Linked DNA regions of Homo sapiens. The protein of the gene in region 1 interacts with the protein of each later gene in a pairwise test. Each region holds a gene or a part of one and is shown in the gene's direction. Other genes may lie near its edges.

The links.
Region 2: the proteins of BDKRB1 (region 1) and LAPTM4B interact in a two-hybrid assay, tested with the Homo sapiens proteins (one large-scale study listed by BioGRID and IntAct).
Region 3: the proteins of BDKRB1 (region 1) and INSIG1 interact in a two-hybrid assay, tested with the Homo sapiens proteins (one large-scale study listed by BioGRID and IntAct).
Region 4: the proteins of BDKRB1 (region 1) and NAGPA interact in a two-hybrid assay, tested with the Homo sapiens proteins (one large-scale study listed by BioGRID and IntAct).
Region 5: the proteins of BDKRB1 (region 1) and LTAP1 interact in a two-hybrid assay, tested with the Homo sapiens proteins (one large-scale study listed by BioGRID and IntAct).
Region 6: the proteins of BDKRB1 (region 1) and NAP1L4 interact in a two-hybrid assay, tested with the Homo sapiens proteins (one large-scale study listed by BioGRID and IntAct).
Region 7: the proteins of BDKRB1 (region 1) and HHATL interact in a two-hybrid assay, tested with the Homo sapiens proteins (one large-scale study listed by BioGRID and IntAct).

The regions. Positions count from the first base shown.
Region 1 is NC_000014.9:96,262,237-96,266,340, forward strand, and holds the end of BDKRB1 (B1 bradykinin receptor), read left to right. Parts: exon of another isoform or gene 1-375; intron 376-415; 5' UTR 416-534; intron 535-1,436; 5' UTR 1,437-1,446; coding exon 1,447-2,508; 3' UTR 2,509-2,527; downstream 2,528-4,104. UniProt on the Homo sapiens protein: This is a receptor for bradykinin. Could be a factor in chronic pain and inflammation.
Region 2 is NC_000008.11:97,813,341-97,817,917, forward strand, and holds part of LAPTM4B (lysosomal-associated transmembrane protein 4B), read left to right. Parts: intron 1-1,987; coding exon 1,988-2,061; intron 2,062-2,717; coding exon 2,718-2,840; intron 2,841-4,577. UniProt on the Homo sapiens protein: Required for optimal lysosomal function. Blocks EGF-stimulated EGFR intraluminal sorting and degradation.
Region 3 is NC_000007.14:155,303,837-155,308,413, forward strand, and holds part of INSIG1 (insulin-induced gene 1 protein), read left to right. Parts: coding exon of another isoform or gene 1-59; intron 60-4,404; coding exon 4,405-4,434; coding exon of another isoform or gene 4,435-4,522; 3' UTR 4,523-4,577. UniProt on the Homo sapiens protein: Oxysterol-binding protein that mediates feedback control of cholesterol synthesis by controlling both endoplasmic reticulum to Golgi transport of SCAP and degradation of HMGCR.
Region 4 is NC_000016.10:5,024,025-5,028,397, reverse strand, and holds the end of NAGPA (N-acetylglucosamine-1-phosphodiester alpha-N-acetylglucosaminidase precursor), read left to right. Parts: intron 1-212; coding exon 213-418; intron 419-504; coding exon 505-552; intron 553-1,018; coding exon 1,019-1,120; intron 1,121-1,199; coding exon 1,200-1,263; intron 1,264-2,712; coding exon 2,713-2,920; 3' UTR 2,921-3,554; downstream 3,555-4,373. UniProt on the Homo sapiens protein: Catalyzes the second step in the formation of the mannose 6-phosphate targeting signal on lysosomal enzyme oligosaccharides by removing GlcNAc residues from GlcNAc-alpha-P-mannose moieties, which are formed in the first step.
Region 5 is NC_000001.11:154,207,606-154,210,867, reverse strand, and holds part of LTAP1 (protein C1orf43), read left to right. Parts: intron 1-3,219; coding exon 3,220-3,262. UniProt on the Homo sapiens protein: General regulator of phagocytosis. Required to uptake Gram negative bacterium by macrophages.
Region 6 is NC_000011.10:2,981,622-2,986,198, reverse strand, and holds part of NAP1L4 (nucleosome assembly protein 1-like 4), read left to right. Parts: intron 1-4,577. UniProt on the Homo sapiens protein: Acts as a histone chaperone in nucleosome assembly.
Region 7 is NC_000003.12:42,699,225-42,704,542, reverse strand, and holds the start of HHATL (protein-cysteine N-palmitoyltransferase HHAT-like protein), read left to right. Parts: upstream 1-1,744; 5' UTR 1,745-1,964; exon of another isoform or gene 1,965-2,002; intron 2,003-3,021; exon of another isoform or gene 3,022-3,076; intron 3,077-3,352; exon of another isoform or gene 3,353-3,355; coding exon of another isoform or gene 3,356-3,411; exon of another isoform or gene 3,412-3,431; intron 3,432-3,703; coding exon of another isoform or gene 3,704-3,716; coding exon 3,717-3,822; intron 3,823-4,717; coding exon 4,718-4,785; intron 4,786-5,318.

The DNA.
Region 1 (4,104 bases):
CCTGGCTTTGTCATTCATCGCGTGGGGACAGGTGCAGCAGAAGAGAGCAGACAGAAGCACAGGATCTCAATCAGGCTCTTGAATCAGACTGCCTGGGTTTGAATCCAGGCCCTACTGACCAGCTGTGTGACCTCAGACAGGCGACTCCGGGTCTCAGCACTCAATTTTCTAATTGGCCAACTGGAGATGACAATGGCCCCTACCTTGAATGGCTGCCAGGAAGATTAAATGAGAAAATACTTAAATGTGAAACACTTAGAATGGCGCCTGGAACACAGACCATTAATACCATCTAACAGATGTTAGTTGTTATCCTTATTTATTACTCATGCTTTCCTTTCTCTTTTTTCTTTTCTCTCTCTCTCTCTCCTTTTTTTTTTTTTTTTTTTTGTTGTTGTTGTTGTTGTTGAGACAGGGTCTCAGTCCGTCGGCCCAGACTGAAGTGCAGTGGCACAATCATAGCTCGCTGCAGCCTCGACCTTCCAGGCTTAAACGATTCTCCCACCTCAGCCTCTCGAGTTGCTGGGACCACAGGTATGCACCACCATGCCCAGCTAATTTTTGTATTTTTTGTAAAGACAGGATTTCACCATGTTGCCCAGGCTGGTCTTGAACTCCTGGGTTCATCTGATCCATCTGCCTTGGCCTCCCAAAGTACTGAGATTACAGGTGTGAACCACCACACCCGGCCAATACTCATGTTTTTCAAGCCTGTAAGAGGAACCTCCTAGCACTGTCCCCACCCCGGCCACCACACTGGTCCCAGCCCCAACAGGTCAGCTTCCTTTGCTGTTCCCGGGCTTCCCTCAGCTCTATCTCAAGCCATGACCTCTGCCTCCATGTCTGCAGCCCCATGAGGCTGGGGCTGCTCTGTCCTGCATATCTCCAGTGCCTGGCAAGGGGCTGGCAAGAGGTAGAGGCTCATTAAATGCCTGTTAAAACCCTAATAGTAATAATAATAATGGTACAGTTGTTACTAAGACTAATCACTACCTTCCAAAGTCTTTCCTCTATGCAAGGCACGGAGCTAAGCACCCTGTAGATCCTGACAACAGCCCTCCCGTGATCCCACAAGAGAGACACGATTCTCTCCAATGTTTAAAAAGGAAAGTAAAAGTCAATGGTTCTAAGTAGCTCACACTGAGTGATTGTACCGGGATTTGGACTCAGGCACCATCCCTTAAACCAGAGGTCAGCAAACTTTTCCCCCTCAGGAACAGATGGTAAATATCTTCAGCTTTGCAAGCCAGACAGTCTCTGTTACAAGCGCTCGACTCCCCCTTGTAGCATGAACACAGCTGTAGATAATACGTCCAGGAATGGGTGTGGCTCTGTGCCAATAAAACTTTATTGTCCAAAAACAGGTGACAGGTTGGTTTGGCTCATAGGCTGTAGTCTGCCACTTCCTGTTTTATTCTACCTTCTGTTCATTTCAGGTCACTGTGCATGGCATCATCCTGGCCCCCTCTAGAGCTCCAATCCTCCAACCAGAGCCAGCTCTTCCCTCAAAATGCTACGGCCTGTGACAATGCTCCAGAAGCCTGGGACCTGCTGCACAGAGTGCTGCCAACATTTATCATCTCCATCTGTTTCTTCGGCCTCCTAGGGAACCTTTTTGTCCTGTTGGTCTTCCTCCTGCCCCGGCGGCAACTGAACGTGGCAGAAATCTACCTGGCCAACCTGGCAGCCTCTGATCTGGTGTTTGTCTTGGGCTTGCCCTTCTGGGCAGAGAATATCTGGAACCAGTTTAACTGGCCTTTCGGAGCCCTCCTCTGCCGTGTCATCAACGGGGTCATCAAGGCCAATTTGTTCATCAGCATCTTCCTGGTGGTGGCCATCAGCCAGGACCGCTACCGCGTGCTGGTGCACCCTATGGCCAGCCGGAGGCAGCAGCGGCGGAGGCAGGCCCGGGTCACCTGCGTGCTCATCTGGGTTGTGGGGGGCCTCTTGAGCATCCCCACATTCCTGCTGCGATCCATCCAAGCCGTCCCAGATCTGAACATCACCGCCTGCATCCTGCTCCTCCCCCATGAGGCCTGGCACTTTGCAAGGATTGTGGAGTTAAATATTCTGGGTTTCCTCCTACCACTGGCTGCGATCGTCTTCTTCAACTACCACATCCTGGCCTCCCTGCGAACGCGGGAGGAGGTCAGCAGGACAAGGTGCGGGGGCCGCAAGGATAGCAAGACCACAGCGCTGATCCTCACGCTCGTGGTTGCCTTCCTGGTCTGCTGGGCCCCTTACCACTTCTTTGCCTTCCTGGAATTCTTATTCCAGGTGCAAGCAGTCCGAGGCTGCTTTTGGGAGGACTTCATTGACCTGGGCCTGCAATTGGCCAACTTCTTTGCCTTCACTAACAGCTCCCTGAATCCAGTAATTTATGTCTTTGTGGGCCGGCTCTTCAGGACCAAGGTCTGGGAACTTTATAAACAATGCACCCCTAAAAGTCTTGCTCCAATATCTTCATCCCATAGGAAAGAAATCTTCCAACTTTTCTGGCGGAATTAAAACAGCATTGAACCAAGAAGCTTGGCTTTCTTATCAATTCTTTGTGACATAATAAATGCTATTGTGATAGGCTAAATGATTACTCCCGTAGATTGGGGGGTACCTAATCCCTGGACTTGATGAATGTTACCAAATTAAGGGTCTTGAGATGGGGAGATGATCCTGAATTATCCAAGTGGGCCCTATATAATCACAAGGGTCCTTATAGGAGGGAGGCAGGAGGCTCAGAGTCAGGAGATGTGACTATGGAAGCAGAGGCCAGAGGAATTCAGGACGGCCACTACGAGCCAAGGATTGCAGGCACCCTCTAGAGGCTGTAAAGGGCAAGGAAATGGCTTCTCCCCTGGAGCCTCCAGAAGGAATGGGTCCTGCCAACTCCCTGTCTTCAGCCCAGGGAAACAGATTTAGGATTTCTGGCCTCCAGAACTGTTAGAGGATACATTTGTGTTTTGTTTTGCTTTGTTTGCTTTGCTTTGCTTTGCTTTTTTGAGATGGGGTCTCGCTCTGTCACCCAGGCTGGAGTGCACTGGCACAATCACGGCTCACTGCAGCCTCAACTTCCCAGACTCAAGGGATCCTCCCACCTCAGCCTCCTGTAGCTGAGACTACAGGTGTGCACCACCATGCCTGGCTAACTTTTCTATTTTTTGTAGAGATGGTGTCTTCCTGCATTGCCTAGGCTGGTCTCAAACTCAAGGGCTCAAGTGATCCTCCACTTTGGTCTCCCATAGTGCTAGGATTATAGGCGTGGCCACTGCGCCTGGCCCCATTTGTATTTTAAGCCACCGAGTTTCTGGTAATTTGTCATAGCAGCAGCAGGAAACAAATAACAAGTATCGGGTAATGGCCTCTCTTATTACACTTCCATTTGTCTATTCAAAGCTTTCTAGGCTAACTGCCAGGAATACAGGGATGGTATAGCTAGAAGTTCTATATTCAAGGAACTTACATACATCTAAATATTATAATATAAAAAATGAAATGAGAAATTGCATGAACACACCACGGATCCAGCATCTTGCGCCTTCAGCGAGAAAGGGGATGGGTTCCCTCTCAGGTTAGCAGAGAAGACGCTGTGAAGGGAGTCAGCCGTGAGCCTGGTTTCCACAAAGGGTGCAATCTGGATACGTGGAGACAGGGAGGAAGGGCTGGCAGAGGCGGGAAAGGGTGAGCTGCTCACAAAAGAATGCTTGTGCATGCTCTTATTGAACGTGTAATGCATTGGTGCGGGTCTTGCTATGAGAGACCCAACGGTGAGCCTAACGGTGTCTCTACCCTCCAGGGGCTCACAGCAACCAGGACAATAATTAAGGGATTGTCATAGAGCAGGATGCCCGCCACCATCAGGGTGAGGGGTGCCGTGAGAACCAGAGCAGGGCTCCAGTCTGGGTGGCTGGGAGGGATGGTTAGAGAGGGGTTCCTGGAGGAAGAGACACATAAACTGAATCCCAAAAAATGAGAAGCTGGCCAAGCAAAATGGGGGAAAGGAGTGTTCCAGACAGAAGGAACAAAGTAGGCCCAGAGGCAGGTGGGGTTACAGGTTAGGAGGGAGAGGTTGAAGGATGGCAGAGGAGGAGGCGGGTCATGGAGAGAATT
Region 2 (4,577 bases), on another chromosome or scaffold:
GAGAAAGATGGAAGCCGGAAGACTCAGCAAGTCTGCTCTTCATCTTCTCCTACCTGCTTTATTCTAGCCAGGCTGGCAGCTGGTTAGATGGTACCCATACAGATTGAGGGTGGGTCTTCGTCTCCCAGTCCACTGACTGAAATGTTAATCTCCTTTGGCAACGCCCTCACAGGCACACCCAGGAACAATACTTTGCATCCTTCAGTCCAGTCAAGTTGACACTCCAGATGCATTAAGCCTACAGAATCCCCTGGATCTGTTGAGGTCCTGTTTGCCACTGGCTAAGAAGGAGTTAGATCAGCTCTGGTGTCCAGTATTCCTCCTTTCATGCTCTTAACGTGCTCACCGGCTGCTTCTCCAATGCATTTTATTGTTGTTGTTTACATTTTAATGTTTTTGAAATCAGGATGTGATTTGCAATTTAGTAGAGATTTAGTATGCAGATTATGTTTTCCCCTCTAGATCTCTGTCGAAAAAATGCAAAGCTTTTAGAGAAGTTGCATGTACAATGAAAACCAATATTATTTTTCTCATTGACAATAATTTGTTCTGCCAGATCTAGGAAAAGCAGTTTAAAAAAACCAATAGTTTGGGGTTCATTTTTATAAAATTATTTCTTATTAAATATTGAGTAGGTATAAAAGAATATTTATAAAATATTTATTACCCGTAGCAAATAATGGTGCTACAAGCAGTTGTGTACCTGCCAAGTTGGTTTAAGATATTTTTGTCCGGGTGCGGTGACTTATGCCTATAATCCCATAGTGACAATGCCCAGGCAATTGAAGCTGCAATGAGCCATGATCACACCACTGCAACTCCAGATTGGGAGACCAAACAAGACTCCTTATTTACCAGAGATTGACTAAAGGAAAAAAGAAGTTGAAGGCCAGGCATGGTGGCTCACGCCTGTAATCCCAGAACTTTGGGAGGCCGAGGCTGGCAGATCATTTGAAGTCAGGAGTTCGAGACCAGCCTGGCCAACATGGTGAAACCCCCGTCTCTACTAAAAATATAAAAATTGGCATGGTGGAGCACACCTGTAGTCTCAGGTACCTAGGGGGTGAGGTGGGAGACTTGCTTGAGCCTGGGAGACTTGCTTGAGCCTGGGATGCGGAATTTGCATTGAGCCAATGTTGTCCCACTGCATTCCAGCCTGGGCGACAGAGTGAGACTCTGTCTCAAAAAAATAAAAAGAAAAAAGAAAAAATAAATAAAATAGAATGAACCAGATGATATGGCTGTCTTAGAGCAAGCAAGAGAGTGGGACAAGGTGAGGCGAGATTAGAGAGGTAGACTGCTCTGGAATAAAGAGGAACATCAAGGCCTTGATAAGAAATGAAGGTTTTATTTTTATTTATTTATTTTTTTGAGATGGAGTCTCGCTCTATCGCCCAGACCGGAGTGCAGTGGCGCGATCTCGGCTCACTGCAAGCTCTGTCTCCCAGGTTCATGCCATTCTTCTGCCTCAGCCTCCCAAGTAGCTGGGTCAGCAGGTGCCCACCACCACGCCCGGCTAATTTTTTGTATTTTTAGTACACATGGGGTTTCACTGTGTTAACCAGGATGGTCTCAATCTCCTGACCTCGTGATCGCCCTCCTCGGCCTCCCAAAGTGTTGGGATTATAGGTGTGAGCCACCGCACCTGGCCGGAGTTTTTATTTTAAATAAGATCGGAAGCTATGAAGGCTTTCATTAGAGCTTTGAGGCACACATGAGTTTACAAAATAGAAGTTAGACACCTATATATCTATAAAGTAATACCTAATTCATTATTTATATAATCCAGTGGACCAGAAGAACAAACATTAAAAAAATCTGTAAACCAATATCCCTTTTTCTATTTTGAAATAATCTCTTAGTATAAAGTATTTACTAACTTTATGCTAGTTTATTTACAAAATGCCTTTGAGAAGAGACTGAAAGTATTCAGTGGATCCACTACTGATTGTCTTTTTTAAAGAAATTCTTTTTAATCTTTCGGCAGACATGTGCATTGCCATTGCGATTTCTCTTCTCATGATCCTGATATGTGCTATGGCTACTTACGGAGCGTACAAGGTAAGCCGCTTGCAGTAAGATGCTGGCCTTTTCCTTGGTCTCTTACATGTGTAATCTGTGCTGCTGTCTATAGTGAGAAGTGACTTTCCAGTTTTCTGTTAAGAATCTCTGTTTAAATCTCTCGTTTGTATTATGTGGTACTAGGAAAACCAATATTATACTGGAAATTTTTTTTTTTTTGGGAAGACGGGGTCTCACTCTGTCACACAGGCTGGAGTAGAGTGGTGTGATCTTAGCTCACTGCAATCTCCGCCTCCCAAGTTCAAGTGATTCTCCCACCTCAGCCTCCAGAGTAGCTGGGACTACAGGTGTGTGCCACCACACCTTGCTGATTTTTGTATTTTTTAGTAGAGACGTGATTTCACCATGTTGGGCAGGCTAGTCTCGAACTCCTGACCTTAAGTGATCCACCCACCTCAGCCTCCCAAAATGCTGGGATTACAGGTGTGAGACACCACACACAGCCAGTCCTGGAAATGTTCACTGAAGCTTATTTGTTGACTGCTTATATTTGGCATACTGGTTTCCACCATGACCTGGGTTAATGAATTCCAATTTTTCCATTTCCTTTCAGATTAATAAAATACTTTGAATTTAAGAAAAATATTGTTTTATAATATTGAACACATTAACTTTCTATTTTCTGTTCTGTTTAGCAACGCGCAGCCTGGATCATCCCATTCTTCTGTTACCAGATCTTTGACTTTGCCCTGAACATGTTGGTTGCAATCACTGTGCTTATTTATCCAAACTCCATTCAGGAATACATACGGCAACTGGTACGTGGACCTCTTACTGCTCCTTTTCATTAATTCTTTTCATTAGGGAAGCTGGTTAAGTAAGGGATGTGTAGAGATACACAGACATTAATTTCAGGATTTTTAGCTTGCAGCTGAGTTACTCATAGGAAATTTCTTTTTTCTTTTTTTTGAGGTGGAGTCTTGCTCTCGTCACCCAGGCTGGAGTGCAGTGATGCGATCTCGGCTCACTGCAACCTCTGCCTCCAGGGTCTCAGCCTCCCAGCTAGCTGGGATTATAGGCATGTACCAACATACCTGGCTAATTTTGTATTTTTAGTAGAGATGGGGTTTCACTGTGTTGGTCAGGCTGGTCTTGAACTCCTGACCTCAGGTGATCCACCCATCTTGGCCTCCCAAAGTGCTGGGATTATGGGTGTGAGCCACTGTGCCTGGCCTGATAAAGTTTTGAGGGCCGGGGTTATGATTGGTGGCAGTGATGGTGGTGGTTGATGTGCCTACCTAAATTATAGTCCAGTTACTAATAGTCGTATTTGGTAAAATGTAGTTTTCTCAGTTATCAACAAAGGATAGCTTTTTGCCTTTGCTAGTGTGTTGAAAGTGGGACTCTGCTCAAAAACAAACAAAATAATTAGCTGGGAGAGGTGGCACACGCCTGTGACCCTAGCCACTCGGGAGGCTGAGGCAGGAGAATTGCTTGAACCTGGGAGGTGGAGGCTGCAGTGAGCCAAGATCACGCCACTGCACTCCAGCCTGGGCAATAGAGTGAGATCTCATCTAAAAAAAAAGAAAAATCAAAAGAAAGTGGAAAGAAAGTGGAACACTGCTGTATACTAGCTCCCAAATTTGTTTGACCATAGAATCCCTTTCTCAAGCATCATTTTGGGACTAGTTTACGGTTAAATGTCCTTTGTGACCATATGAGTGAATATTGGTGGCAGGGTATTAAGAAGCTTATAATGGCTATGAGGTTGGAATAACTTTATTTATTTTTGGGACAGGGTCTCTGTCACCCAGGCTGGAGTGCAGTGGTGTGATTATGGCTTGCTGCAGCGTTGACCTCCCAGGCTCCCGTGATCCTCCCATCTCAACCTCTTGAGTAGCTGGCACTATAGGCATGCACCACCATGCCCACCTAATTTTTCTTTTTGTATCTTATGTAGAGATGGGGTTTCACCATGTTGCCCAGGCTTGTCTCAAACTCCTAGACTCAAGTGATCCTCCAGCCTTGGCCTCCCAAAGTGCTGGCATTATAGATGTGACTCACTGTACCAGGCCAACTTTACTTTTTTTTTTTTTTTTTTTTGAGACAGAGTCTCACTCTATCACCTAGGCTGGAGTGCAGTGTTGTGATCTCGGCTCACTGCAACCTCCGCCTCCCTGGGTTCAAGCCATTCTCCTGCCTCAGTCTCCTGAGTAGCTGGGATTACAGGCACCCGCTACCAAGCCTGGCTAATTTTTTGTATTTTTAGTAGAGATGGGGTTTCACCATCTTTTCCAGGCTGGTCTCAAACATTTAGCCTCAGAGGATCCACCCTCATCGGCCTCCCAGAGTGCTAGGAATACAGGCGCCCACTACCATGCCTGGCTAATTTTTGTATTTTTTTTTTAGTAGAGGTGGGGTTTTGCCATGTTGACCAGGCTGGTCTCGAACTCCTGACCTCAGGTGATCCGCCCACCTTGGCCTCCCAAAGTGCTGAGATTACAGGCGTGAGCCACCATGCCCAGCCTGCAACCTCAATCTTCTGGGCTCAAGTG
Region 3 (4,577 bases), on another chromosome or scaffold:
TGTGAGGAGTTGAATTTGAAGACCACTTGGCTGTTTCACAAAACCAGAAGTAATTACAGGTAGAATTTGCAGTCTTCCACTGGTTACTGACTCTCTGCTGCCAAATTTCTCATGATGGAGAAGAAAGGACTTTGCTTGCCTTTTTTTTTTTTTTTTTTTTTTGAGACAGAGCTCTGGAGTGCAGTGGTGCCATCATAGCTCACTGTAACCTTGAGCTCCCGGACTCAAGCAATCCTCCCGCTTCAGCGTCCCGAGTAGCTGGGATTACAGGCACATGCCACCATACCCGGCTAACTTTTTTGCTTTTTGTGGAGATGTTATCTCCCTGCCTTGTCCAGGCCGGGCTCGAACTCGTGGGCTCAAGCCATCCTCCCACCTTGGCCTCCCAAAGCACTGGGATTATAGGCGTGAGCCTGGCCTTGCTTTTTTTAATATTAAAAATCTGGTCGGATGGTCCCACATGGAAATAGTATGTTGTTTTCATGCATTCGCCATCATCCCCGTTAATAGTCTTCAAAGGAGAGCTGGCAACTCCATCATTGCTTTCTTGCTTTGAGATTTTTGTTTCGGTACTCTTTGGGAGAGAATTCCTAAGAAGGTTTTTAGAATAAAATTGTCCTCAACCAGATTGACTAATTACACATTATAACTACAACTTGAATAACATTTAAAGAGTTGGTTATTTCTGTTTGATAGGTTGGTGCTGTTATATGTCAAGGCTTTTTAAATCGGTTTTAAGAAATAAGCATTATTTTGGTGGAGGTAGAAATTTCACAACATTCATAAGTTCTAAACATCTAGAAATGGTTGGAGGAAACATTTTCGTTTTGAAGATAGTTTCATTAAGTAATCCCTGCTGTGCTCCTTTGCTTACAGAAAAAAATGTTAAAGATAACTCAAAATAGGATAGTTGGTGTAATTATAATTCTCCTTACTTCAGCTTTCTCTTCATCCTTTTTATTCTTTAAGCTTGGGGGAAAATGTTTGGATGTTCTCGTATCTTAAAACTGGAGGAGAGAGGCTGGGCGCGGTGGCTCACGCCTTTAATCCCAGCACTTTGGGAGGCTGAGGCGGGCGGATCACGAGGTCAGGAGATCGAGACCATCCTGGCTAACACAGTGAAACCCCGTCTGTACTAAAAATACAAAAAAAAAAAAAAAATAGCCAGGCGTGGTGGTGGGCACCTGTAGTCCCAGCTGCTTGGGATGCTGAGGCAGGAGAATGGCGTGAACCCGGGAGGCAGAGCTTGCAATGAGCCGAGATTGTGCCACTGCATTCCAGCCTGGGTGACAGAGCAAGACTCTGTCTCAAAAAAAAAAAAAAAAACTGGAGAAGAGAGATCACCACCTTAATCCCCTTCCCTGCTGGGCTATCACATGAAACTGACCTCTGAGGTTCTAAGCCTAACCCGCCTACCACTGTTTTTATTCATAAATACTTAAATCCTTACCTCTGGATCCCAACTGTTACTCTTTTTTTCACTTCAAAATTTGCAAACTCATTTCTATCCATCAAACCCCGGAAATGGCCCAGGGGCTTCACAGTGCAGTCCCCTCCCTCCTGCTGCATCCGTTCCTCAGGCTGTGCCCCAGGTTGCATTCGTGGTGCGTGTTTTCTCCCAGGGCAGCCTTCCCCACATTCCACTCTTGTCATACTGTTGACTCACAAAATGGAAGTGGCTGAATGTTCCAGGGATAGTGTCTAAGAGCTATTGGTTTAAGGTTGAAACCTACACCAAGTAAGGCTTTGTGAAGGGAGATGACGAGAGTGAAGTTGTTGACAGTCTGAAGGTGAAGAGATTCCGAGGCTCAGTTCAGCACCGGGACCAGACCCGCCCAGATCCAGGGTAATTTGAGGTCTGTGTTTGGTGCTGATGGTTTTGCCCAGTGCACTCCACACCCTCTCCTTCTTAGCTGTCTCAGTTCTCTTCAGATGCCTTTGTTCTAACTTATGCTTCCCTCCCTTAAGAAGAAACATAGTTACTTGCAAGAATAACCATGCTCAAAAGTTACAAGTTGGCTTTGCTTCAAGTTATATGGTCTCCTAGCTTTTTCTATGTGGTATTTCCCCCCACACATGCCGTTGTCCTTTGTGTCCGAAAATACAGCAGAAACATTTGTTATCAGCCTGTTACGGTTTTTTTGTTTGCTTTTTGTTTGTTTTTATTTTTACTTTTTTTGAGACGGAGTCTTGCTTTGTCACCCAGACTAAAGTGCAGTGGCACAATCTTGGCTCACTGCATTTGAACCGTCTCCCAGGTTCAAATGATTATCCTGCCTCAGCCTCCCAAGTAGCTGGGATCACAGGCGCCCACCACCGCACCTGGCTAATTTTTCTGTTTTTAGTAGAGACGGGGTTTCGCCACGTTGGCCAGGCTGGTCTCGAACTCCTGACCTCAGGTGATCCACCTGCCTCTGCCTCCCAAAGTGCTGGGATTACAGGCATGAGCCACCGCGCCCGGCCCAGCCTGTATGTTTAAAAGAAAATGAGTCTGTAACCATCATTTATAGAACTTGTAGTTGTTGCTGTTTGTAGCTTCAAGTCCTTTCTCAAGAGTAAGCTGCAAACTGCCAACAGCAATCAAGCCTGTCCTGCTGCCACTGCCCGGCCCCACTGGGCCACCTGGAGGCAGAGTCCCGCCCACCTCAGTGTCAGCTTGGGATTTGATTTGCCGTTCCTGTTTTTGATTGACCCAATTCAGCTGCTAATGATAATAATACTATTATTGTTATTGAGGGTTTACATTTGTTGGGCTCTTACTGCTGCACAGGAGGCATTGTGCTGAGCGTTTCCATTGTTAGCCAGTTTAGTCCTCATAACACAAGTCTTTGAAGTAGAAACTATTATTAGCCCATTTTTAAAAGGGGAAATTGCAGCTTAGGAAGATTAAACAACTTGGCCAAGTGGGTGGCAGAGGTCGACGTGGCACCGTGCTTCTCATTAGCATACCACACTGCCCTTTCAACACATAGCTCGCACCTGCCTTCACCCTGGAAGCAGGTTTACAGCAGCCTGTGTTGGTGTCTGGGTTGCCATTTACAATGTGCCACCATTAGGCAACACTGCTGGAAGTCCCTGTGCCACGTGTCAGGTCCGCCCGGGCTGGCTGTCGTTCGTCTCTGGCGTCTTTGCCAGGCCTCACTGTGGCCTCTGTCGACCAGGGATTCTAAAAGTCCACTTCCCATTTATTTATCAGCACATTAGTGAACAGGGAGTCAAATGTGATGACCAGTTTTCTTTCCAGGTTGCTGCCAAGAGTTTGCTCTTTTGTTTTCTCACCGCAGTTTGTATAGAACCCTCCCAGTGTTCATATCTAAAAATTGGCAGTGCTTTCACATGATCAATTCCTAAAAGCATGTATGTTTCCTAGAAGGTCTTATTGTGTGTGTCCCCAGGGTAGTAACTGGCATACCTGGGTGACTCAACCCAGACTCATGACTTTCTTACCTGTCTGTTCAGATGAGAGGCTCTTGCTGTTTTCTGGATGAGTAATCTCCGTCATTGCTGAAGGTGAGGAGCTCAGCTCCTTCCTCTTAAAGTGAGTGGAGGGCAATTAAGTAACGTGGGAAGTCACGATTCTGAGGGAAAAAAATTCTGTATGGAGGTTTCTCTTTTGCCCTTTAGCAGAAGCTCCGTGGCCTCAGGAAGGTCATTTAATCTCTCTGGCTTTGCTTCTTCATCAGTGAAATACTGTTCTCCATTAAGAATTTACCCTGAGGTGCCTGGTCATAGTAGTAACTGTAGTGTCTACCTCTCAGAAGCTCTGTGAGGGTCAGATGAGGAAGAACATGTAGAAAGGATTTCCCAACTGTGAAGCTCTGTGTGAATTGAGGGCACACAGAGCTTCAGTATTACAAAGCATGACCTATTTCCAATGTCTGTTTCAACAAACTGCTGGTAAGGTGGGTTATAACACAGGCATCAGATACTAATAAAGGTTTGTGGCAGAAACCTCCCTTCAGATAAAGGTTCAATCCCTTAAATTGCAGTTAGAACTTTCAGGAACCTATCATACCCTAAGCATCACCATGCTTTGATAAAATTGGGTGTTTCCTTTATATAGATATTAATTTAGTTAAACTTTCACCAATATCTTACACTTATATAACAGGCTTTATATAAGGGCCTCAGCAGCGTAATTTCACCTGAGGCAGAGAATTATCCTAATTTTGCAGGTGAGAGCTGTGGCTCACGGGGCCAGAGCCATGAAGACGGTGCAGGGGAGCTGGGAGAGCTGGCCTCGGTCTCCAGTTCTCTGCACATGTCCCACCTCTCAATCTTGTTGCTTCAGTCAAAGAAAGTGTCAATCTTTCCCATGTTAGGACCTACTTAATTGGTAATTAAAATATTTATACATTTAGTGCTAATTTTCTCTTTCCTTTTTTTTTTCCTTTCTACACATAGGGTGTTCCTGAAAAGCCCCATAGTGATTGAGTCTTCAAAACCACCGATTCTGAGAGCAAGGAAGATTTTGGAAGAAAATCTGACTGTGGATTATGACAAAGATTATCTTTTTTCTTAAGTAATCTATTTAGATCGGGCTGACTGTACAAATGACTCCTGGAAAAAACTCTTCA
Region 4 (4,373 bases), on another chromosome or scaffold:
CAGGCGTGATGGTGCACACCTTACGGTTACAGCTGCTCAGGAGGCTCGGGTGGAAGGATCGCAATACCTCATCTCAAAAATAGATAGACGCCATCTTGTAGGTAGGTAGGTAGACAGGTGAGAATGGAGAGAGGGGTGGTTGGGGGCAGCCTGGAGGGAGTTGAGGGGCCGTCTGGGGGTGTCCTCTCCTCACACATCACATCCCTCTACAGCCAGGACAACATGTGGCGCTGTCCCCGCCAAGTGTCCACCGTGGTGTGTGTGCACGAACCCCGCTGCCAGCCGCCTGACTGCCACGGCCACGGGACCTGCGTGGACGGGCACTGCCAATGCACCGGGCACTTCTGGCGGGGTCCCGGCTGTGATGAGCTGGACTGTGGCCCCTCTAACTGCAGCCAGCACGGACTGTGCACGGAGAGTGAGTGGGGGTTCTGGGGAGGGGGCTCTGCCCAGCCCTGCCTTGCCCTAGGCCCTCACCTGGCCTCCCCGGTCTTGTCTCGGCAGCCGGCTGCCGCTGTGATGCCGGATGGACCGGGTCCAACTGCAGTGAAGGTAGGAGCTGCCACGCCACTAGCGGATGGGGAGACGGTGGCCCCCGGCAGCCCCCACTGCTCCTCTGCTGCTTCTGTCTCCACCTTCTGGTCTGGGAAATGCTTGCCTCTTGTCTTCTGCCCCGGCCTCACCTGCACATCACTGTGTGACTCCCCTGTGGCTGCTGCGGCCCGTTCCACAAAGGGCTCGGCTAAAACAAGGGTCCCCGGGCTCTGGCTCCAGGGCCCACCTCAAATCCAGCACGGTCTTATCTTGAGATCCTAACTGCAGTGCCTCTGTAGAGATTCTGCTTCCAAATAAGGTCACGTTCAGGGGCTAGTCCAGGGAGGGCAGGGGGTGCTTCACCTTTAGCCCGGCTCTGTACACATGGGCAGGGGCAGGTATCCTGTCCTGTCGAGAAAGGCTCTGACACTGGAGGCCCCAACCTTTCTCCTCCCTCCTCCCTCCTCCCATCTCCTTTCCATAGAGTGTCCCCTTGGCTGGCATGGGCCGGGCTGCCAGAGGCCTTGTAAGTGTGAGCACCATTGTCCCTGTGACCCCAAGACTGGCAACTGCAGCGTCTCCAGAGGTACCTATCCCTCCAAGGGGAGGGGTATGGGCAGACGCTCCTGCTCCGGCCCCTTCAGCCTGTCTCTGGTATGTTACAGTAAAGCAGTGTCTCCAGCCACCTGAAGCCACCCTGAGGGCGGGAGAACTCTCCTTTTTCACCAGGTAGGTGCTTCTGTGGGAGCTGGGGCCAGGGCGGGAGGAATCCCCCTTCTCTCCCGCACCCTTCCCCTGTGAGGTCCATCTCTGCCCTTGTCCCCTGCCAGCTCCCTGCCTTAGAGGAAGCGGGACCAGCTCTCCCCACTGTCTGCTTTGGGGACCCTGGAGCAGAGCCCAGGGCCTTCGAGTGCCCAGCCTCTGTTGTCAGCATCCCCCACTGGAGCTCAGAATGCAAACTGGGCTAGATGAGATCCCAGGGTGGGGGCAGGAGGTTTCCTCATTCTGTCACCCAGGCAGAAGTGCTGTAGTACAGTCAGCTCACTGCGATCCTCCCGCCTCAGCCTCCCAAGTAGCTAGGACGACAGGCACGTGCCCCCATGCCCGGCTAATTTTATTTCTTACTGTTTTTTAGAGATAGGATCTCACTATTTTGCACAGACGAGGTGCACAGTCCTGGGCTCAAGTGATCCTCCCACCTTGGCCTCCCAGCCCCCATGCCCAGCATCCAGCTGTGTTTTATTTGGCTTACATAATTTTTAAAAAGTTAAAATATATCAGCAGCATCTAAAAATCAGTAACATTCACATTTTTTTAAACTTTTTTTTTTGAGACGGGGTCTCACTCTGTTGCCTAGGCTGGAGTGCAGTGGTGCGATCTCAGCTCACCACAACCTCCGCCTCCTGGGTTCAGGCAATTCTCCTGCCTCAGTCTCCTGAGTAGCTGGGATTACAGGTGCCCGGCTAATTTTCATATTTTTAGTAGAGACAGGATTTCGCCATGTTGGCCAGGCTGGTCTTGAACTCCTGACCTCAAGTGATACGCCCGCCTAAGCCTCACAAAGTGCTGGGATTGCAGGCATGAGCACCACGCCCAGCCTTAAAAACCTTTTTAATGGCTTCTCTTAAAATATCAGGCCAGGCGTGGTGGCTCACGCCTGTAATCCTAGCACTTTGGGAGGCCGAGGCAGGTGGATCACTTGAGGTCAGGAGTTCAAGACCAGCCTGGCCAACATGGTGAAACCTGGTCTCTACTGAAAATACGAAAATTAGCCAGGCGTGGTGATTCGAGCCTGTAGTCCCAGCTACTCGGGAGTCCAAGGCAGGGGAATCGTTTGAAGCCAGGAGGCGGAGATTGCAGTGAGCTGAGATCATGCCACTGCACTCCAGCCTGGATGACAGGGCGAGACTCTGTCTCAAAAAAAAAAAAAAAAAATCAGGAGATGGGGCAGCACGGACCTGCATTGTACGTCATGACTGCCTCTGCTGTTCCCTGCACATGTCTTAAATGTTGCCCCATCCCCACCTAGTCCATTTTGCTCATAACATTCCCTGTGTGGTCCCTGGAGGCACCTGATTTAGTGCTATCTATGCCGGGTAGAGGGAAGCCCCTCCAGTGCTACCCAAGCCCTGAGCCCACCCAGCAGTCCCCCACTTGGGGCTTCTCTCCTGTCTGCAGGACCGCCTGGCTAGCCCTCACCCTGGCGCTGGCCTTCCTCCTGCTGATCAGCACTGCAGCAAACCTGTCCTTGCTCCTGTCCAGAGCAGAGAGGAACCGGCGCCTGCATGGGGACTATGCATACCACCCGCTGCAGGAGATGAACGGGGAGCCTCTGGCCGCAGAGAAGGAGCAGCCAGGGGGCGCCCACAACCCCTTCAAGGACTGAAGCCTCAAGCTGCCCGGGGTGGCACGTCGCGAAAGCTTGTTTCCCCACGGTCTGGCTTCTGCAGGGGAAATTTCAAGGCCACTGGCGTGGACCATCTGGGTGTCCTCAGCCCCTGTGGGGCAGCCAAGTTCCTGATAGCACTTGTGCCTCAGCCCCTCACCTGGCCACCTGCCAGGGCACCTGCAACCCTAGCAATACCATGCTCGCTGGAGAGGCTCAGCTGCCTGCTTCTGGCCTGCCTGTGTCTGCTGCCGAGAAGCCCGTGCCCCCGGGAGGGCTGCCGCACTGCCAAAGAGTCTCCCTCCTCCTGGGGAAGGGGCTGCCAACGAACCAGACTCAGTGACCACGTCATGACAGAACAGCACATCCTGGCCAGCACCCCTGGCTGGAGTGGGTTAAAGGGACGAGTCTGCCTTCCTGGCTGTGACACGGGACCCCTTTTCTACAGACCTCATCACTGGATTTGCCAACTAGAATTCGATTTCCTGTCATAGGAAGCTCCTTGGAAGAAGGGATGGGGGGATGAGATCATGTTTACAGACCTGTTTTGTCATCCTGCTGCCAAGAAGTTTTTTAATCACTTGAATAAATTGATATAATAAAAGGAGCCACCAGGTGGTGTGTGGATTCTGAATCATGGACTTAGGTCACTGCTAGGGCTTAGCAGGTGTGGCTTATCCTGAAACAGAAGTCACAACGGCATCCTGGAGCCAAGTCCTGTTCCCTGCTTGTTTAATCCAGTGCTTATCAAACTTTAATATGCCACAGGTCACGAGGAGATCTTGTTAAAATGCAGATTTGGGCCTGGGGTGAGGCCAGCAATTCTGCGTTTCCAACAAGCTCTCTGACGATGCTGATGCTTCAGGTCCCCAGACCACACTTCTTGTCTTTCTTAGAAACAGGGTCTCGCTCTGTTGCCCTGGCTGGAGTGCAATGGCACGATCTCGGCTCACTGCAATTTTGACCTCCTGGGCTCAAGTGATTCTCCCACCTCAGTCTCTCAAGTAGCTGGGACTATAGGCACATGCCACCATGCCCAGCTAATTTTTAAAATTTTTTTTGCAGAGAAGGGGTGTCACTGAGTTGCCCAGGCTGGTCTCAAGCTCCTGGCCTCAAGTCAACCTCCTGCCATGGCCTCCCAAAGTGCTGAGATTACAGGTTCGAGCCACTGCGCCTGGCCCCTGACCATAATTTGAATGACCAGGGCTTAGTTTTTCCTCACAGTATTTTTATAGAATTTAAATTAGTTACCCATGTTTAAAAGTCAAGAGATTTTAAAATAAATAAGGGCGGGGGTGCAGTGGCTCACGCCTGTAATCCCAGCACTTTGGGAGGCTGAGGTGGGCGGATCACCTGAGGTCAGGAGTTCGAGACTAGCCTGGCCAACATGGCAAAACCCCGTCTCTACTAAAAATACAAAACAGGCATGGTGGTGGGAGCCTGTAATCCAGTT
Region 5 (3,262 bases), on another chromosome or scaffold:
ATACACACTAAACATAGTCTCGTATTTTCATGCAAATGTTAAAATCAAAGTTCTTGGCGAGAAAGGAAAGCCAATCTAGAGTAAAAACTTAGGCCGGGCGCAGTGGCTCACACCTGTAATCCCAACACTGGGAGGCCGAGGCAGGTGGATCATCTAAGGTCAGGAGTTCAAGACCAGCTTAACCAACATGGTGAAACCCCATCTCTACAAAAATACAAAAATTAGCCGGGCATGATGATGTGCGCACCTGTAATGCCAGCCACTCAGGAAGGTGAGGCAGGAGAATCGCTTGAACCTGGGAGGTGGAGGTTGCAGTGAGCCAAGATCGTGCCATTCCACTCCAGCCTAGGCGACAGAGCGAGACTCCATCTCAAAATAATAATAAACAGTTAGTTACCAGCCATAAAAATAATCTGTTTTCTGCTATGTTGAATATTGCTCTTTTTCAAGAGCTTAAGGGGTATGTCTCTCCTGTCTTCTCTCTGTCCCTAAAAATGAGCTACGTTGTCTTAAAAGATGAAAGGGCCAAGGCCTGGAGCAGTGGCTCACGTCTATAATCCCAGCACTTTGGGAGGCCAAGGTGGGCGGATCACTTGAGGCCAGGAGTTGGAGACCAGCCTGGCCAACATGACAAAACCTCATCTCTACTAAAAATATAAAAATTAGCCTGGTGTGGTGGCACATGCCTGTAATCCCAGCTATTCCAGAGGCTGAGGCAGGAGAATTGCTTGAACCCAGGAAGCAGAGGTTGCAGTGAGCCGAGATTGTGCCACTCCAGCGTGGGTGACAGAGCAAGAGTCTGTCTCGAAAAGATGAAAGGTCCTAGTAAAAACTGCTTAGAAGGCCAGCTGCAGTGGTTCGTACTTGTAATCCCAACACTTTGGGAGGCTGAGATGGGTGGATTACTTGAGCCCAGGAGATTGAGACCAACCTGGGCATCATAGTGTAACCCTGTCTCTACTAAAAATAAAAAAATTAGGCCAGGTGTGGTGGCTCACGCCTGTAATCCCAACACTTGGAGAGGCCGAGGCGGGCGGTTCATGAAATCAGGAGAGCGGGAACATCCTGGCTAACGTGAAAACCAGTCTCTACTAAAAATACAAAAAAAAAAAAATTAGCCGGGCGTGGTGGCGGGTGCCTGTAGTCCCAGCTACGTGGGAGGCTGGGGCAGGAGAATGGCATGAACCCAGGAGGCGGAGCTTGCAGTGAGCCAAGATCGCGCCACTGCACTCCAGCCTGGGCAACAGAGCAAGACTCCATCTCGAAAAAAAATTAGCTGGGAGTGGTGGCGACCACCTACCTGTAGTCCCAGCTACTCAGGAGCTGAGGTGCGTGTACCACTTGTGCCTGGGAGGCAGAGGTTGCAGTGAGCCAAGATCATGCCACTGCCCTCTAACCTGGGCAACAGAGTGAGACACTGTCTCAAAAAAAAAAAAAAAAAAAACTGCTTAGAGCACTGATGAAAATGAACATGTAGAAAGGCTGGAAAAGGGCATTTGGTCTAGAAGTCAGCAGAAGCCTGTTCAAAATTCACTTTCTTTGAAAGATAAATACTAGATGATTCCAGTTATATGAGATACCTAGGTAGTCAAACTCAGAGACAGAAAGTAGAATGATGGTTGCAGGGGCTGGAGAGTGGGGGAAATAGGGAGTTGTTCACTGGGTATAGTTTCAGTTTTGCAAGATGAAAATGTGGAGGTTGGTTGCACAACACTGTGAATATACTTAACACTACTGAACCATACATTTAAAAATTCTTAAGATGGTAAATTTTATGTTACATGTATTTTACCACAATCTTTTTAAAAATTATTTCTGAAGGCCAGGCATGGTGGCTCACGGCTGTAATCCCAGCACTTTGGGAGGCTGAGGCGGGTGGATCACCTGAGGTCAGGAGTTCAAGACCAGCCTGGCCAACATGGTGAAACCCTGTCTCTACTAAAAATAGAAAAATTGGCTGGGCATTGTGGTATGCACCTGCAATCCCCAGCTACTCGGGAGGCCGAGACAGGTCGCTTCAACCTAGGAGGCAGAGGTTGCAGTGAGCCAAGATTGTGCCACTGCACTCCAGCCTGAGCAACAGAGAAAAAGACTCCATCTCAAAAACAAAAAATTATGTTTGATTTGTAGTTTCTAGGAATGTTCATTGGGTTTAGTGAAGAGTATAGGCTTTGAAATCTGACAAACTTAGGTTTGAATCCCAGGTCTGTCACTTAACTAGTTTTGTGACCTCATACAAGCTAATTATTGGACCCTTAGTTTCCTAATCTGCAAAACAAGGTGATACCTATATTGGGGATACCTGTCTCTGAAAAAAAAGCTTGAGCCAGAGGCAAGAACTCTGGGAAATTGGTTTCTCTGCTGCTAGTTGTTTTTGGTATGAGTAGGTGTGTGTCAGGGTACCCAAACAGGGCCTTTATTCTGTCACCCAGGCTGGAGTGCTGCTACTTTTTTAGGGTGTGTGTGAGAGAGAGAGACAGGGTCTCAGTCTGTCGCCCAGACTGGAGTGCAGTGGCACATTCATGGCTCACTGCAGCCTCGAATTCTGGGTTCAAGCGATCCTCCTGCCTCAGCCTCCTGAGGAACCAGGACTACAGGTGCTTGCCACCATACCTGGCTAATTTTTTGCAGAGATAGGGTCTCACTTTGTTTCCCAGACTGGTCTCAAACTCCCCTGGGCTCAAGCGATCTCTGGCCTCTGCCTCCTGAAGTGCTGGGATTACAGGTATAAGTGACCATGCCCAGCCTCTCTGCTACTTTTTTTTTTTTTGAGATGGAGTCTTGCTCTGTCACCCAGGCTGAAGTGCAGTGGCGCAATCTTGGCTTGCAACCTCTGCCTCCTGGGTTCAAGTGATTCTCTTGCCTCAGCCTCCCGAGTAGCTGGGATTACAGGCACCCGCCACCACTCCCAGCTAATTTTTGTATTTTTAGTAGAGACAGGGTTTCACCATGTTGGCCAGGCTGGTCTCGAACTCCTGACCTCAAACAATCCACCTGCCTGGGCCTCCCAAAGTGCTGGGATTACAGGCGTGAGCCACCGCGCTCAGCCTCTTGTATTTCTAAGCTACTAGATGGGGTTTTAGTAACTAGTTTACAAAATAGGACAGATAGGACACAAATAACTATTTGTGACTATTGCTGCATTTATGGCCTGGGATAAGCCCTGATTTCTTTGATTAGTCCTCATTCTGTCAATGACCTCCCCTCTCTGTTCTTCAGGGTTAAAGCACGAATTGGGAGCTCTCAGCGACATCACCAGTCA
Region 6 (4,577 bases), on another chromosome or scaffold:
TTTCACCACGTTGGCCAGGCTGACCTCGAACTCCCGACCTCATGTGATCCGCCCGCCTTGGTCTCCCAAAGTGCTGGGATTACAGGCGTGAGCCACCGTGCCTGGCCATGGCCCAATTTTATAGTTACTCTAGCTATGGAGTAGATGTTTTCAGTTCAAAATTAGGAATTTAAGGTTATATTTTGTTACAAAAATCTTTAAAAATTTCATAAGAAAACAGTTGTTTGGGGTACAAAGAAATTAATCCATAAATAGGATTGTTACAGTGACTAATATAAATAAAAGAACATTTGTGTAATCATGGGAATTATTTTATTTTATTTTTCCTCGACCCAATTAACTGGGTGAAAATTTGCTTGCCAGTTCAGATTTAGAATTGTAGACACAGTTAAAGTTTTTGACCTTGGGAGGGAACCTGAACTTTAGAAAACTTACAACATTCTTTTGCCTGGTATCCCTTTCATAATTTAACTTGATTGTCTTTTATTTATTTTTAGTTATTATTTATTAACACAAAATTATATTTATGATGTATAATGCGATGTTTTGAAGTACTATACATTGTGGAATGGCTAAGTCAAGTTAATTCACATTAGGTGGTATACTGATTCTGACAAGAACACTTAACATCTACTCTCAGCAATTTTTCAATTATGTGATACATTGTTGTTAACTATAGTCACCAGGTTGTATAGATCCCTTGATTGCCTTTTAAAAGTGAGAGAACCTTCTGGATGAGTCTTCGGGCTGTGGTTTTATAAGACTAGTATTAAACTGAACATAACATTTAAAACAAACAGATATTTATTTTCCTCAAACCTGTATATTTGATAGTTCCTTATAACTTTCTGTTTTAAGGGTGATAGGGATTGATAAACAAAAATAATTTGTGGTGCTGAAACTTGACTGAACTCTAGCTTGTTTATAATACCACCTCTCTACATTGTCTTTCCTTATTCAGGTTGAGCACTCCTGATCCCAAAATCAAAAATCCAAATGCTCCAAATTCTGAAACTCCGTTAGTGTTGACATTAATGTTACAAGTGGAAAATTTCACACCTGACTTCACGTGATGGATCACAGTTAAAACTTTGTTTCATGCACAAAATTATTTAAAATATTGTATAAAATTACCTTCAGTCTATGTGAATAAGATGTGTGGGAAACGTGAATGAATTTCATGTTTAGATTTGGGTCCCATCCCCAAGATACCTGATCATGTTTATACAAATATTCTAAAATCTGAAACACTTCTGGTCCCAAGCATTTCAGATAAGAGATACTCAACCTGTATAAAGGGTGCAGTGTTTAAAGTAACTTGATTTGTTGGTTTCATATCAAGGAATAGATGTAGTCTATATGCATGGCAGTTACAAAAGTGAAAAGAGACCTGGCCTGCTGTTATGTACTAGGAAATTTGTCTCCATTAACAGTTTCTCAGGTAGCCACTGTCTTCTAGTTTGTGGATGATGAAACTGAGGTCCAGAGGAAGGTTATGCAGAAGAGCATGAGTGGGAATGAGTATGGGGAAGTAGACAGGGCCTGAATTGGTAGGAATGTGTATTCTGCAGAAGGTGACGGGGGACCATTGAAGTGTGTTTGTTAGTTTTTTGTTTGTTTGTTTTTTGAGACAGAGTTTCGCTCTTGTTGCCCAGGCTGGAGTGCAATGGCGAGATCTCGGCTCACTGCAACTTCCGCCTCCTGGGTTCAAGAGATTCTCCTGCCTCAGCCTCCTGAGTAGCTGAGATTACAGGCATGCGCCACCATGCCCGGCTAATTTTGTATTCTTAGTAGAGACGGGTTTCTCCGTGTTGGTCAGGCTGGTCTCGAACTCCTGACCTCAGATGATCCGCTCGCCTCGGCCTCCCAAAGTACTGGGATTACAGGTGGGAGCCACCACACCTGGCCTTTGTTAAAGGGTTTTTAAATCTTCACTGACTAGGGCTGGGTTTGGGTTGCTGCTGTGGTCGTGGTGGTGAGCATAGCCAGCCATTGTAGGGTTTGTTGCCTTTTTTTTTTTTTTTTTTTTTTTGAGGCAGGGTCTTGCTCTGTTGTCCAGGCTGGAGTTCAGTGGCGCAGTGATAGCTCACTGCAGCCGCCAGGCCTCCAACTCCTGGGCTTGAGTGTTGCTTCTGTCTCAGCCACTCAAGTAGCTGGGACCAGAGGCATCAACCACTGTGTCCAGCCTCATTTTTTTTTTTTTTCTTTTTGTTTTGAGACAGTCTCACTCTGTCTCCCAGGCGGGAGTGCAGTGGTGTTATTTCAGCTTACTGCAACCTCTGCCTCCTGTGCTCAAGCGATTCTCCTGCCTCAGCCTCCTGAATTGGGACTACAGGTTCACACCACCATGCCTGGCTAATTTTGTTTTTTTTGTTGTTTTTGTAGAGACGAGGTTTCCCCATGTTGCCCAGGCTGGTCTGAAACTCCTGAGCTTCAGGTGATCTGTGATAGGGGTAGGATTTGAAACCAGGCTGTTCAGTGTGTGTCTGTCTTGTTCTAGGCATTGAGTTCTGGGTTGGTTGGTTCTTTAGTCAAAATTATTTTCTTTTTTATTGTGTAAATTCATTATTTTTTTTCTATCCTTGATTTAGCACTTTTTTTTTTTTCCAGAATACCGTGTTGGGTTTAACTTAACTGCCTTGTCATCTTGTTAACAAAAATTGTATTAAACAGCACATGCCGGGCTGGGCATGGTGCCTCTGTCCTATAATCCCAGCACTTTGAGAGGCTAAGGTGGGAGGATCACTTGAGGCTAGGAGTTTGAGACTGCAGTGAGCTATGATCCTGCCACTGCACTCTAGCCTGGGTAACAGAGTGAGACTGTGTGTCTCTTTAAAAAAGCACAGCCTTCACTTAAATGAAAATTGAGTGAATCATTTTATCAATGGACTCTGTTAAGTTGGAACAGGTACCATTCCATGGGAAGGTGAACCTCTTTGGCTCATGTCCTAACACAGGTGGTTTATGCTTTCAACAGATATTTATTATGCCAGGAACTGTTAGGGGCTCTGGGGCTGCATAGTGAACAGCATCAAAAGGGAGTATTGTCACACTCCATTTGTAGACAAAATGGATTTCTTGGAGATGCTGCTGAACAGTAGGATTTCAACCCTGACTAAGCTGTTGCTTGTCACTTGTTCCAATAGCAGCAACAGGTTTTTTGTTTTTTGTTTTTTTTTGAGATGGAGTCTTGCTGTGTTGCCCAGGCTGGAGTGCAGTGGTGCAATCTTTGCTCACTGCAAACTCCGCCTCCTGGGTTCAAGCAGTTCTCCTGCTTCAGCCTCCCAGTTGCTGGGATTACAGGCGAGTGCCACCATGCCCAGCTAATTTTTGTATTTTTAGTAGAGACGGGGTTTTACCATGTTGGCCAGGCTGGTCTTGAACTCCTCACGTCGTGATCTGCCCGCCTTGGCCTCCCAAAGTGCTGGGATTACAGGTGTTAGCCCCCAGGCCCAGCCTAGCAGCAACAGAATCTTTAATGAGCAAGTAGAAACAGCCAGAAGTGAAGTGGTGTTGGTACTAGGGAAAGGTTAGAAGGAGTCAGATTTGAAACACGAATGCATGTTTTACTAGCCGTGTGACTTTCAATTTGGCACCTCACCTTTCCAAGCCTCAGCTTCTTTTCGTGTAAACTGAGGATAGTCCCTCCCTAGTGGAGTTTCTCTTGGTATTAAATGTATGAAGTGCCTGACATGTAGGTCCCTTGCTAGTATAGGAGGTGCTGGAAATGAAGTATGTGTCTTTACGAGGTGTTACTGATAGGGTGATGACAACAAGAATCTGTCCATTAAACTGACAGTGTTAGATGTTTCCAGGTTAGTAGGCTTCTTTCAGCAATTAGTGTGTATGTGTGGGGTAAGGAAGGTGCTATGAGATACATTTCTTAGGCAATAGAGAGCTTCAATTAAGTAGCCAAATTACAGTTGATGTTATTGTGTAACTGTTTTGGCAGTATGTATCAGAATCCATTCATGCTCTTTGACCCAGAAATGCTACTGTAGCGGTCCTGCTATTGCCATATCAATTAAGGATAACTGGGAGTGGGAAGCCATATAAGCCAAGATGTTCATAGAGACATTATCAAAGGTATATAACAGAAAAAAACACCTCATTCTTTAACAGCTGGTAAGTGGTGTTTTAGCTCTTAGAATGTTGTCCTTAAACAATTGTTATGAAGTCTGACTGTCTCACACCTTGCATTTAGAATATGTGAGAAGGGAACTAACCTCAGGAATACTGTGATTGCAGCAAACATGGTGGAGGAGCGTGAGTGGGAATGAGTGTGGGGAGGTAGACAGGGCCTGAATCAGTAGGAATGTGTATTCTGCAGAAGGTGACGGGGGACCATTGAAGGGTGTTTTGTTTGTTTTTGAGACGGAGTTTTGCTCTTGTTGCCCAGGCTGGAGTGCAGTGGCTTGATCTTGGCTCACGGCAACCTCTGCCTCCTGTATTCAAGCGATTCTCCTGCCTCAGCCTCCCGAGTAGCTGGGATTACAGGCGTGTGCCACCATGCCCGGCTAATTTTGTATTTTTAGTAGAGACGGGTTTCTCCATGTTGGTCAGGCTGGTCTCGAACT
Region 7 (5,318 bases), on another chromosome or scaffold:
TCTGTGGCTCTCTAATAGCCTCTGTTTATGAGCAAGGCTCTTGTCATGGAGTGAATCACCGGATGCCCCCTGCCACCCCAGTGAGGGCCAGGGCCAGCGGTATGCCCATTTTACAACTGAGGATCTGAGGCCCTAAGAAGTGGGTCACACCAGCTCAGGGTCAAGTAAATTGGCTGAACCTGTGTTCTTAACTCTGGGGTCAAACCACCCTGTCTGCTCCCTTGAGCCATTTTCTTGGAGCCTCGTGAGGGCCCCAGTGTGGGTGCACGGGGTTGTCGCCCCTGCAGGGCAGTCAGTGCCAGGAGCTTACAGGGCTGATCCAACTACTTGGCTTCCTCATGTGCCAGGTCCTTCTTCTCCCAACTGCGTACAGTGGCAACATCTTCCCTATGGGCTGTGGTGACATTAAAAAGTTAATCCATGTACATCCTGGCTACTATGATTAACTTACTCCTAACAACCTTTGACTACCCCTCCCTGAGGAAGCCCTCCTTAACCCTGAAGTCTGGCTCAGGTATCCTTCCCTTCCTGATGCTGGCCTCTCTAGTGCCCATTACCCACCACAGCTCTAACCCAGCACCCACACTGTGCAGTAGTCACCATTCATGCTTCTCAGGGTCGGGGACCACAGACACGGGCCTCTGTGTCCTGTGTGGAGTGTGTAGGTTGGGCGTCTCCTTGCTGTTCTCCAGGCCAGCGTGTCTATGTGCTCGGGAGGCAGCTCCCTGCCTAAGTGCAGTCTCTCCCCTTCCTGGGCCCTGATGGGTGGGGAGCAGCACCTCCCTCCTGCCTCCTCAACTGAGCCTGAAGCTGGGGTCATAGGATCAGCAGGGGCTCCAGGAGCTGTCCTGTGACTGATCACAGCCACAAAGCTCCTTCTACCCCCGAGAGCCTCCCCACAAGCACACAGGTGAACAGGTCCCCCTAGATAGCACAGACACATACAGCTGCCCGAGACTTGGCCTCAACCGAAGGGGCACTGTCAGAGGTTCTTAATCTCAGGGGCACCTTCAGGATGCCCCTCCCCTCAGGTATCCAGGGCTGAGGCCTTGGATGCTCCCTTCCAGAATGAGGGCCCTGTCCTACCAGGACTCCCAGTTGGTTAGGAACACACCTGTCTTCCTGTCTGCCTCCACTCTGCCACCGAGAGGATACCAGCCATTCCAAGTACCCACAAGCCTTGCCAAGTGACCCTGCTAGCACCCCTCCATCCAGGACACTCCCTATGGGACAGGGCTGACTTATGGGGATCCCTCTCAGCCACATGTCCCATGCCAGTTCCAGTCCCATCAGGCAAGTCAGCCCTCCCTCAGGCACTGATGCATGGCCAGCCAGGACTCACGGCATAATGAAAAGGACCAGGTCATGGGGCGAGACAAGTCTGCCCTGGGATAGCCCTTAGGAGGTCATATGTAAAGGTAGGAGCTGGAGTCCCTGGAGCCCAAGCATGAAAGTGTTTGCATGTTGTGACTGTGTGTGTCTGTGGTGGGGGCAGGGCTTACAAGCCTGGAGAGGCTGGTGGGACCACCAGGAGTCTTCCTGGAAGAGGGAAGTCCTGGGTAGCAGTGAGAGAGAGGCACAGGCTCTCTAGGAGCCAGGGGAGGCAGGCTGAAGAGAGGCCCAGGTGTCCCTGTCTGAGCCTATGCTACTGGACACCCTCCCCCCACCCAGCACCCGCCCCCCTTCAAGGATCCTCCCTGCGGCTCCCTGTGGCCAGCAGCTCTGCAGCACTCGGCTCTGCTCCACTCTGCTCAGCTCCGCTCCAGGAAGGCCACCTCCTCCTCCCCCTCCTCCTCCCGCTGTCACCACTCACCGCTCATAACCTCAAGGGGGTGGGGACCCCAGGGCTGGACACACCCCACCGTGGCCCCAGAGCTCAGCCGGTCGCACGGACGGACAGTTGGAAGCCGGACCCCAGAGCCTGAGGTGGGCAGTGTGCCAGGGTCCCTTGCGGCCTCCTCAAGGTCAGTGCCAGCTGGGGATGCAGCTACTCTGGGGCTCTTGAGACTTGTGGGGCACACCCCAGGCCCTCATCCCAAATCACAGGCCCCAAAAGGGGCTTTACCCCCGGGGCATCTGGGGCAGGCAGGACCAGGGGAAAGGGTATGCCCCCGTGTCCACAGGCCAGCCCTGGTCTGGGGGTCTATCAGGAGAGGCCCCAGGCTGGGGGCCAGCTCCTTGCAGAGGCCTCACTGGGGACACCCCGCACCGGCCATGGGGAGCTAAAATTGGAAAGTGGCGAGTGGGAGGCAGCTGACAAAGCTATTTCACGGGCTCTTCACCATGCTCCGGTTTCAAGCTCCTGCTCCATTAACCTGATCCCCAGGGCCTCTCCACCCCCACCCAACTGATGAGGAGGTGCCTCCACCCTCAGGCCGACAGCACAGCCATCAGGCTGGCAGCCTCTGCTGTGGGCAGGGGCAGTGGTGGTCTTCTCTTACCCCAGATTCCAGAGGGGGGTCACTGAGAAACCCAATCCTGAAGGGAGGCAGGCAGAAGTCTGTCCCAGGTCTGCCATGTGACCTTGACAGGTCCCTGCCCCTATCTGGCCCATGACCCCTCCATCTGTACGAGGAGACCGTCGGCTGCTGGGGGGCCCAGGGGAGATGGCTACAGGGCTGGGGATGAAGATTTAGGGGAGGATCAAGGGTGGGCAAAAGGGCCACATCAGCCACCTCTTGGCCCCGTCAGCCCAAGAGTTGCCTGGACATGTTCCCTGCTTCCTCCCTTTAATTTGGGTCCTATGTCTGTATCCATGGAGTCCTTGGGAAGCCCCTGAGCCAGGCTGAAGCGGGATAGGAAGGGTAAAGGTGCTAGCTGAGCCGTAGTACGGCCCAGCAGTTCTCCAGGGGACAAGCTAGGCCCCCGCTGGAGGGAGTGGTGAGACTCAGCCGGGGCCTGATTCTGGTCAGCACCTTGGACAGCAGCCAGTGCCCTCCCTGGCCCCGCCTGGCCCCGCCTGGCCCCACATCCGCTACTCCTGGGCACCTCCTCAAATAGCACAGCCTCCAGCTGGTGCCCAGGGCCTGAATACACAGAGCGCTGAGAGAGTGGGGCAGTGTGGTCACGGACACAGGCAGGGACTGGGATGTGACAGGCTGGAGCTCAGGGACTTGTTGGGGGAATGGGGGTCAGTGACAGGCTGGAGGCTTAATGCGAGGATGGAGGCTTGGCTCTAGGGGCAGCACCTGGGGTGGTCATGGGATCTCAGGGAGGGGAGTGGGAGTCAGAGAAAGGGTCTTAGAGAAGCTGGGGCTTTGTGAGGAGCTAAGGGAGACTCACTGATCGAGGTGGGGACCCTGCAGGCAGAAACCTGACTGTAGTGATAGAGGTGGGGTTTCTCCGCACGCAGGTCATGGGGGCCTTGGCAGGAGCGGTTTTGGCAGAGGGTGGGGCCGGTGCCTCTGGAAGGTATGAAGATGTAAATGAAGGTGAGGGAGGCAGGCTGCGAGTGAGGGCTCTGCGGGCAAGAGCCTTGATGGGTGGGGTGGGGGCAAGAGCAGCAGCTGGGATGGGGCACTGGTGTTCGGTGGCCTGTGAACTGTGGGGGGCACAGGGGCAGGCAGAGTGATGGTACAAGGTCCCCAAGGGGCTGGAGGGGCAATCTCTCTTCAGAGTGGGTCCCCACTGGGGTGGTGGGACCATGAGGTGGGGCTAGGCTTGGCTGGAGACTGTAATTCCCTCACCCAACCTGTCTCCCCAGCCCTGTCCAGGCTATGGGCATCAAGACAGCATTGCCGGCGGCTGAGCTGGGCCTCTACTCTCTGGTGCTGAGTGGGGCCCTGGCCTATGCTGGCCGGGGCCTCCTTGAGGCTTCACAAGGTAATGGCTGTGCCCCGGGGCAGGTGGACAGGACCCTTCTTCCCCTGGAGGCCTCAGGGTTCCAACCAGCAAAGCCAGAAAGTTACAGGCTCCAGACCTAGGGTACTCCTTCTAGAACACGGCTGGATCTCCCTTTTCAGCCCGGGGTTCCCATCTCAGATAGTCACTGGAGGCTGGGTGGAGCCAGGTTCAGTCACAGGAACACAGAGATGCAGAGACACTGACAGAGAGATGGACACAGAGTCACACACATAGACACACACACACACACACACAGAGGCCTGGACCCAGACACACACACACAGAGACCTAGACCCAGACATACACACACACACATCCCGACACACACACACACACACAGAGACCTAGACCCAGACACACACACAAACACACAGACATATACACACACCCCCCAACACACACACACACACATACACACACAGAGACCTGGACCCAGACACACACACACAGAGAGAGACCTGGATGCAGACACACACACAAACACACAGACATATACACACACACCCCAACACACACACACACACACACACACACAGAGTCCTGGACCCAGACACACACACACAGAGACCTAGACCCAGACATACACACACACACATCCCGACACACACACACACACACAGAGACCTGGACCCCGACACACACACAAACACACAGACATATACACACACACCCCAACACACACACACACACACAGAGTCCTGGACCCAGACACACAGCGAGACCCAGAAAGAAGCAGATGCAGCACCAAAGAGACTCAGACCCGTGCCCCGTTCCTGATGCCCTCGCTCCCCAGGGTGGGGCAGCCTTGTCCACGGGGGAAGGTGGGGCAGGGGATGTGAAGGCCCCTCTCCCTGAGGCCACACTCTGTTCTCAGATGGGGCCCACAGGAAGGCCTTCCGGGAGTCTGTGCGACCTGGCTGGGAGTACATTGGCCGGAAGATGGTAGGTCCCCCACATCCCAGGGTCCCTCCCATCCCGAACCCTTCTCTGCTCTCTGCTGTTCCAGATGTTGGCAAGTAACAGAGAGCTTCTCACAGCTCTGGGGCCTCTGGCTTGAGCTTCAGTGCCTTCAGCTTCTTTACTGGCCCCTCCTGTATCCTCCTGGGACATCAAGTTTGCCCGGGCCCTGCTCACTTGGGAAATAGGTCGCATTAGTGGAGTGTGCTTCAGTGGAGCCTCCAGCACCTCCTTCCCAGAAACAAAGCAGTAAAGGGGGAATGGCAGGCAACGTGCGGAGGAGAGGGGGAGCTTCAAGCGACCCGGCAGCCCCCATGGTGCCCTTCACTCCTCTCTACCCTCCTGCCTCGGTACTTCCTTCACAGAGGAGTGTGGAGACCTGCAGGCACTGCTCTTGTGTTTGCATAAAGAGGACACGTTGGGTTTGGCTAGTGGTAAAAAATAATTATTATTATTAAATTTAAAAATGATAATAATAAAAGAAGAACATGAAGGCTGGGAAAGGTGCTGGGGCTCTG